Regions from separate parts of the Homo sapiens genome. Here all the other regions are linked to region 2. The links come from fine-mapping of genetic effects on gene expression. A gene starts in region 2. Each other region holds a variant in brackets. All regions are shown on one strand. Distances are from middle to middle. Region 1 has its middle 22 kb from the start of TXN2. Region 2 holds the start of FOXRED2 (FAD dependent oxidoreductase domain containing 2). Region 3 overlaps TXN2 (thioredoxin 2).

The links. PIP is the estimated chance that this variant, and not a neighbour inherited with it, causes the effect.
Region 1: its variant is fine-mapped to the expression of FOXRED2 in whole blood (INTERVAL, PIP 0.97).
Region 3: its variant is fine-mapped to the expression of FOXRED2 in sigmoid colon (GTEx, PIP above 0.99).

Annotation. Positions count from the first base shown.
Region 1 is chr22:36,458,256-36,461,011 of GRCh38, reverse strand. No RefSeq gene overlaps it. Among named protein-coding and RNA genes, the nearest start is that of TXN2, 22 kb to the left of the region's middle. The variant G/A (reference allele first, on the strand shown) is at 1,738.
Region 2 is chr22:36,505,558-36,508,313 of GRCh38, reverse strand. FOXRED2 (FAD dependent oxidoreductase domain containing 2) reads left to right here and starts at 1,274. Exons shown (of 9, transcript NM_001102371.2): 1 at 1,274-1,305; 2 at 1,891-2,418. The coding sequence starts at 1,892. RefSeq lists a silencer at 1,028-1,527.
Region 3 is chr22:36,477,100-36,479,855 of GRCh38, reverse strand. The region is part of intron 2 of TXN2 (thioredoxin 2); the gene reads left to right. Among named protein-coding and RNA genes, the nearest start is that of TXN2, 3.2 kb to the left of the region's middle. The variant G/A (reference allele first, on the strand shown) is at 1,304.

The sequences.
Region 1 (2,756 bases), 47 kb after region 2:
TGCAGGCACCTGCCACAAGGCCCAGCTAATTTTTGTATTTTTAGTAGAGACAGGGTTTCACCATGTTGGCCAGGCCGGTCTCAAACTCCTAACCTCAAGTGATCCACCCACTTTGGCCTTCCAAAGTGCTGGGATTACAGGTGTGAGCCACCTTGCCGGGCCAAGAAGAGTTTTGAAGAATCGACTGGGACTCGTCCTGAGAGGCAAGTGGTGGGAAGGGTATTCCAGGCAGAAGGGAGAGCGTATGCACAGCACAGAGGCAGGAAAGTCCATGGTCCATCCCAGGAGGAGGCTTTGGTGGGGCCTTGGAGTCACACAGTCCTGGCTCCAGTCACAGCCCTCTCCGTCACTAGCCAAGCCTCAGTTTCCTTCATCTCTGAAATGGGAGGACAGGACCCTCCTCATGGTTATGAGATCGTAAATGTAATGTCAGAACACAATGCAATTACGTGGTAAGCGCCCTATTAAACGCTTCTCTTATTGTGTGTTAGTAATGTGTATTAGTTTGCTAGGCCAGCCATCACAAAATATCACAGACTGGGTGGTTTAAACAACAGATGTTTATTTTTTCACAGTTCTGGGGCTGGAAGTCCAAAATCAAGGTGCTGGCAGGGTTGGTTTCTCCTGAAGCCTCTCTGCTTGGCTTGCGGGTGGCCACCTTCTTGCTGGGTCCTCACATGGATTTTCCTCTGGGCACACACATCCCCCAAGTCTCTCTCTCCTTTTTTTTGTTTTGTTTTGTTTTGAGACGGAGTCTCGCTCTGTCACCTATTACCCAGGCTGGAGCACAGTGGCACAATCTCGGCCCACTGCAACCTCTGCCTCCTGGGTTCAAGCGATTCTCCTGCCTCAGCCTCCTGAGTAGCTGGGACTACAGGCACCTGCCACTACACCTGGCTAATTTTTGTATTTTTAGTAGAGACGGGGTTTCACCATGTTGGCCAGGCTGGTCTCTAACTCCTGACCTCAGGTGATCCACCTGCCTTGGTCTCCCAAAATGCTGGGATTACAGGCATAAGCCACCATGCCCAGCCCAGTGCCAGTTTATGGAGGGGGACATGGAGGTACAGAGGGCTTTGGGTTATGACTCAAGGTCACACAGCTAGGAAGGAGCAGACAGGATTTAAACCTAGACAGTCTGACTCTGGGGTCCCTGCTCCTCTCCCCATGCCCTCTCCACCCTCCCACACACACAGCAGGAGCTCCCTGCACTCCACAAACACCCTTTTGCATGTCACTCAGCTCCGGTCAAACTGTTAACTTCTCCCCCATTGTCGGATACTAAGGAATTTTTCAGTTAATATTTTTCCATTATAAATGAGGTTGGAACAAACCTGTTTGAACATAAGAGCTTATTTCTTCTTTTGGATTTTATACAAGTGGGATTTCCAGGGCAAAGGGAGCATTTTATTGTCCCCGAGAGCGGGGAAGGAGTGAAACCCGAGCTGGGCCCCGCCTGCACTGCCCACCTGCCGGTTTACTTTGTGGGAGGGGAGGCTCGGCAGTAGGGATGTCCTGAGACTTGGCTCGGCACTGCCCCACCTCCAGCCACCTCTTTGTCTCTGCCGCCTCTGCCTTAGAAAGTTCCGGGCCCCAGCCAGGCACGGTGGCTCACGCCTGTAATCCCAGCACTTTGGGAGGCCGAGGTGAGCAGATCACGAGGTCAGGAGATGGAGACCATCCTGGCTAACACGGTGAAACCCCATCTCTACTAAAAATACAAAAAATTAGCCAGGC[G/A]TGGTGGCGGGAGGCTGAGGCAGGAGAATGGCGTGAACCCGGGAGGCGGAGCTTGCAGTAAGCCTAGATCGCGCCACTGTACTCCAGCCTGGGTGACAGAGCAAGACTCTGTCTCCCCAAAAAATCCAAAACAAAACAAAATAAGACAAAGAAAGTTCCAGGCCCCAAATCCTGGTTTTTCTGAGATTCTGAGTTCAAAATAATGGTTCCTATAAGGATATGGTCATTTTTTATTTTATTTTTGAGATGGAGTCTCACTCTGTTACCCAGGCTGGAGTGCAGTGGCAGGATCTCAGCTCACTGCAACCTCCACCTCCCAGGTTCATGTGATTCCCCTACCTCTCAGCCTCCTGAGTAGCTGGGATTACAGGCACCTGCCACCACGCCCGGCTAATTTTTGTATTTTTAGTAGACACAGGGTTTCACCATGTTGGTCAGGCTGGTCTGGAACTCCTGACCTCAGGTGATCCTCCCACCTCGGCCTCCCAAAGTACTGGGATTATAGGTGTGAGCCACTGCGCCCAGCCTGGTTTCCCATATGATTTCCCCTATTAGTAGTTCCCATCTCGAAGGGTCCCTATGATGTTGAGATAGGGAAGGAAGCTAGCAAGTTTGGAGCAGGAGAGGGAAATGGAAGCCCAGAGAGGGCAGGGGCCTTGCCTGGGCTCAGCCAGCAGCGAGAGCAGAGAATCCCAAGGTGGCCCTGAGCTCCCACTACCAGTCCTCGGTTTGCTCTTGACTGAGGCTGGCAGTGAGGTTGAGGGAGAGAAAATTATTTCTCAAAGTGGTGGTTGGGGAGTGACAGGAAGCAGTTCCCTTAGGGAGTCTCTTTCCCAAGGGTCAAATCCCTGGATCTTGGAAAGCTCGTTGTTTCACATCTGCACTTAGTTGCCCGACTGGGGACCCCATGCAGCCTGGGAATGACCGTGAAATGGCTGCCCAGTGGGCAGGGTGTTTGCTCTGCACTTGGCCCTGACCACTGAGCCACAGCCAGGCCGGCTGCAGGGCTGCAGCTCTCA
Region 2 (2,756 bases):
GAGCTTTTCTCTGATGTTGACACAGACTGAAGAAAGTAAATGACATTCGGCCAGGCGCGGTGGCTCACGCCTGTAATCCCAGCACTTTGGGAGGCCGAGGCGGGCGGATCACGAGGTCAGGAGATCGAGACCATCCTGGCTAACACAGTGAAACCCTGTCTCTACTAAAAATACAAAAAATTAGCCGGGTGTGGTGGCGGGCACCTGTAGTCCCAGCTACTAGGGAGGCTGGGGCAGAAAAATGGCGTGAACCTGGGAGGTGGAGCTTGCAGTGAGCCGAGATCACGCCACTGCACTCCAGCCTGGGCGACAGAGTGAGACTCCATCTCAAAAAAAAAAAAAAAAGAAAAAGTAAATGACATTCTTTGGTAGGTACTTGTAGGCCTGAGAGGTCAGGAAAATTTTTCTAAGGAGTCCCCAGCTACGATTTTTAATTCAAAGAATCTCCAGCCATGCAAATCTGCAGGCTCGCAGTTCTTTCCACCTGCCCTTCCCCCAAGAACACTCAGCCCCATTTCACTGGACTTTGAAGGTTCCTACACTGACTTCGTATTTCTCCCCATGTAAATCTCATGCAGGGGCCACTTGCCACCCCTGGGAAGCCAACCTTCATCATCCAGTTCACGTTATCTTCCTCCTGCCATTTATCTTGCCTCCACTGAGTTTTAATTCCAGGCTCCACTTCCTGTGATTGTAAACATATCCCTTCATCCCTATGTCTCCATTTGACCAGTCAGCTACCAAATGTCGGAAACAATGCCTTGCCCACCTCTCCTATTTGGTGGAAGATTAGGACAGTCGTGTATGTTACTTGGTAAGCAGTACACTGAGTCACTGTAGCAAACGCTTGTTAATTGGCTTATCGGTCCTGGCTCCACCACGCTGGTTTCCAGTCCCACAAAACTGGGTAGGCCAACTAGTTTTAGCGTTTGGCTACATTCATGGAATATGAGAGCTAGGATTAGCTCCAAAAATCACGTGCTCCCCTCCCTCCGTGTAGAGAGGCACCTTTTAAAACGAAGGACCCAGTTCCCCATCCCGGATCTCCAGACCTTCCACCCTCGCGGGTGCGCGCTAGCCCCAGGCCCCTCTACCAGCCCCCGGAGCAGCGAACGCAGCACGCGCGCGCCTCTCCCGCGCTGGGCCGGAGCAGGCAGCCTGCCAGCTGGTCCCGGCGTGCCGCGCGCCGCGCACGTGACCCCGCCCCCTGCCATTGGTCCGGGCGCGAGGGGCGGAGCCGCCGCGGAGCAAGCGAGCCAAGCGCGGCCTCATTAGACCACGGGTTGCAGCCGGAGCGGCTGGGAGGTTCGCGCGTTTCTCAGGGTTCGGTCGGAGGCGGGGAGGCCGGAGCTGCGGGCGTAGGGACCTGGCGGCTCCTGAAGCGCACGCGGGCGGGCGGCAGGTGTGCGCGGCATCCCTGTCACGTGGCCGAAGAGCCTGGGGCGCGCGGACCCTGGCAGGGGGCGGGGCGCACGCAGGCCACACCCACTTCAGGCTCCCACCCGGTCGCTGGAGAGGGGCCAAGGCCTCTGGAAGGTCCAACCTGGAGGGTGGTTCAAAGGGGTGTTGGGCACCCTCAAATTAGGGGAAAATTGGGGAGTACGCTCTCCTTCCCCAGGGTGGAGGTTACTACAATCATAAGCGGGGAGCCGGTGCCCCTGAGGAAGGAGACCCTGAGGGAGATAAGATGGAGGGGCTCGGGATTCCGGGGAGCCCCAAGTCCCAGCTTGAAACGGTGGAGTCCGGGCAAATGAGCTCTGAGGACGGCTTCTGGGCCTGGCCGTGACCCAGATTGCAGTGAGAGTTCCCGCAGGCCCCGCCTCTTTCTGGGCCTCGTGTCTCCCAGCCGCCGGGCCGGGTGCGAGGCCTTACCCCTCTGATCTGCTGCAGGATGGGCCTCTCCGCTGCGGCCCCGTTGTGGGGTCCCCCGGGGCTGCTCCTGGCCATCGCCCTGCACCCAGCGCTGTCGGTGCCCCCGCGCCGGGACTACTGCGTGCTGGGCGCTGGGCCCGCGGGCCTGCAGATGGCCTACTTCCTGCAGCGCGCTGGACGCGACTACGCAGTGTTCGAGCGGGCCCCGCGGCCCGGCAGCTTCTTCACACGCTACCCGCGGCACCGCAAGCTCATCAGCATCAACAAGCGGTACACGGGCAAGGCTAACGCCGAGTTCAACCTCCGCCACGACTGGAACTCTCTGCTCAGCCACGACCCCCGGCTGCTCTTCAGACACTACTCGCGTGCCTACTTCCCCGACGCCCGCGACATGGTGCGCTACCTGGGTGACTTCGCGGACACGCTGGGGCTCCGTGTCCAGTACAACACCACCATCGCCCACGTCACTCTGGACAAGGACCGACAGGCCTGGAATGGCCACTACTTCATCCTAACTGACCAGAAGGGCCAGGTGCATCAGTGCAGGTAAGGCCGGTGCCAGAGCTCACCTGCGGAAGCTGGGACCTTCCCCACACGAACCACACACCTTGATTGGCCAGTAGGTATGGGAGGAATGGACGAAAAAGGGTATTTCGCTTTTTTTTTTTTTTAAGACGGAGTCTCACTCTGTCGCCCAGGCTGGAGTGCAATGGCACGAGGTCAGCTCACTGCAACCTCCGCCTCTCTAGTTCAAGCGATTCTCCTGCCTCAGCCTCCCCAGTAGCTGGGATTACAGGCAAGCACCACCACACCCGGCTAATTTTTTTATATTTTTGGTGGAGATGAGATTTCACGACGTTGGCCAGGCTGGTCTCGAACTCCTG
Region 3 (2,756 bases), 28 kb after region 2:
AAGCATACAGGGCATAGGAAGGAGTTTCCTTTCAGTGCTATCTGAGTTTGCTTTAGAGATATTTAAGTCCCTCTGGCCTTCTGAATTTTAGCCTGGGCTTTTTCATTTCTAGATCTTTGGGGCCTGGCTAGACACCCAACTACACAAAAGCTGGACAAAGCCCTCTGAATGAGGCATCCTGGGAGAAACCAGTGTAGCATAAGTTAAAAATTCAGGGGCCTTCAGGTCGGACGCAGTGGCTCACACCTGTAATCCCAGCACTTTCAGAGGCCGAGGCAGGTGGATTACCTGAGGTCAGGAGTTTGAGACCTGCCCAGCCAACATAGTGAAACCCCATCTCTACCAAAAATACAAAAATTAATCGGGCGTGGTGGCGGGCACCTGTAATCCCAGCTACCCAAGAGGCTGAGGCAGGAGAATCGCTTGAACCTGGGAGGTGGAGGTTGCAGTGAGCTGAGATCGCGCCATTGCACTCCAGCCTGGGTGACAGAGGGAAACTCCATCTCAAAAAAAAAAAAAAAGAAAAAGAAATTGAAGGGCCTTCTGGTCAGGTCTCTGACAGATTGTTTCGCTGGCTTTCCAGTTGTTTCTCTGACTCACCCTGTGGCCTTGGGCAGGCCACTTGATATCTTTGTGCTCCCTTTCTTCACTTGTAATAGGAGATAAGGTCTTGCACACTGGGTTTTTCAGTGTTATGAGTTGTTTTTGTTTTTCTTCTTTTAGAGACAAGGTCTCACTCTGTCACCCAGGCTAGAATGTAGAGTGCAGTGGTGCGATCACGGCTCACTGCAGTCTCTACCTCCTGATCTCAAGCAATCCTCCCACCTTGGCCTCCCAAAGTGCTAGGATTACAGGCATGAACCACTGCGCCAGGCCTGAGGGTTTTTTTTCCTTTTTTGTTTTTGAGACAGAGTCTCATTCTGTCACCCAGGCTGGACTGCAGTGGTTCAGTCAGCTCACTGCAACCTCCACCTCCCGAGTTAAAACAATTTTCCTGCCTCAGCCTCCCAAGTAGTTGGGACTACCACCCAGATAATTTTTTTGTATTTTTAGTAGAGACGGGGTTTCACCATATTGGCCAGGCTAGTCTCTCAAACTCCTGACCACAGGTGATTCTCTCCCGCCTTGGCCTCCCAGAGTGCTAGGATTACAGGTGTGAGCCATTATGCCCGGCCTATTTTTCAGCATTTAAAACCGTCAGGCCTGGCTGGGTGCGGTGTGCACCACCACACCTGCTACTCAGGAGGCTGAGGCAGGAGAATTGCTTGAACCCGGGAGGCGGAAGTTGCAGTGAGCCGAGATC[G/A]CGCCATTGCACTCCAGCCTGGGCAACAGAGTGAGACTCCATCTCAAAAATAAATAAGTAAGTGCTGAGAATAAAATAGGAGTTGTCAGCCAGGGGTTTGTGAAAGGTGGAACTGTCTTGGCCTCCTGGTGTAGTGAGCATTCCAGAGAGGCCTTCCGAAATGAACAATAAATGGGATAATGCCTCATTTTGTTCAGTAAGGAAGTGGGGTGGTGTGAGTTGTTCATTCAGTGCCAGGCACTTTCCTTGGTGCCACATACATAGAGATGACAGCACCAGGCCTGTCCTGGATGAGCTTCCCCAGCGAGAGGGGAATACCTATGATCAGGGCAGTGATAATGGTCAACTCAGGGGCTGTGGGATCAGAGTAGCCTGTGGGTGAAATAAAACACTTTCTCTTTTTTTTTTTTTTTTTTTTTTGAGACAGAGTCTCTGTCGCCCAGGCTGGAGTGCAGTGGCACAATCTCAGCTCACTTCAACCTCTGCCTCCCAGGTTAAAGTGATTCTCCTGCCTCAGCCTTCCTAGAAGCTGGGATTACAGGCGCACACCACCACTCCTGGCTAATCTTTGTATTTTTAGTAGAGACGAGGTTTTACCATGTTGGCCAGGCTGATCTTGAACTCCTGACCTCAGGTGATCCGCCTGCCTCGGCCTCCCAAAGTGCTGGAATTATAGGCGTGGGTCACCGCACCCGGCCAAAGAAAACACTTTCAACACAGCTTTGGGTTGTGATCGATCCCAGCTGTGCTTCTCTAATCTTGCACAGGTTTCTTAACTCGTATGGGCTTCAGTTTCTTTGGAAGGTGTGTTCTCTTTGCAGAGTTGAGGGGTGTGTTTGGTAAAAGCAGAGAAAGTGAGCCAGGGACTGGTGCGTTGTAGACGCTCCAGGCCATTGGTTCCCCTCCTTTTAGTTCTGAGTCCACATGGTGTTTGAAATATCCCCACAGCTTCCAATGCATGTTTACCCACATTGCCTTAGTTGATCTCTCCTAATAGCTTTGAGAGCCATAATCTCTCTTTTTCAGATGAAGAAACTAGGGCCCAGGCCGGGCGCGGTGGCTCATGCCTGTAATCCCAGCACTTTGGGAGGCCGAGACAGGCGGATCACGAGGTCAGGAGATCGAGACCATCCTGGCTAACACGGTGAAACCCCGTCTCTACTAAAAAATACAAAAAATTAGCTGGGCGTGTTGGCAGGCACCTGTAGTCCCAGCTACTGAGGAAGCTGAGGCAGGAGAATGGCGTAAACCAGGGAGGCGGAGCTTGCAGTGAGCCGAGATCGCGCCACTGCACTCCAGCCTGGGGGATAGAGCGAGACTCCGTCTCAAAAAAAGAAAAAAAGGAAACTAGGGCCCCAGAATAATCAGCTGGTTGGTGAGAAGCCTCTGTTTGAACCTTTTAACTTCCAATCCCATATCCTTTTATATGACAGTATATTTATCTGAGATATAC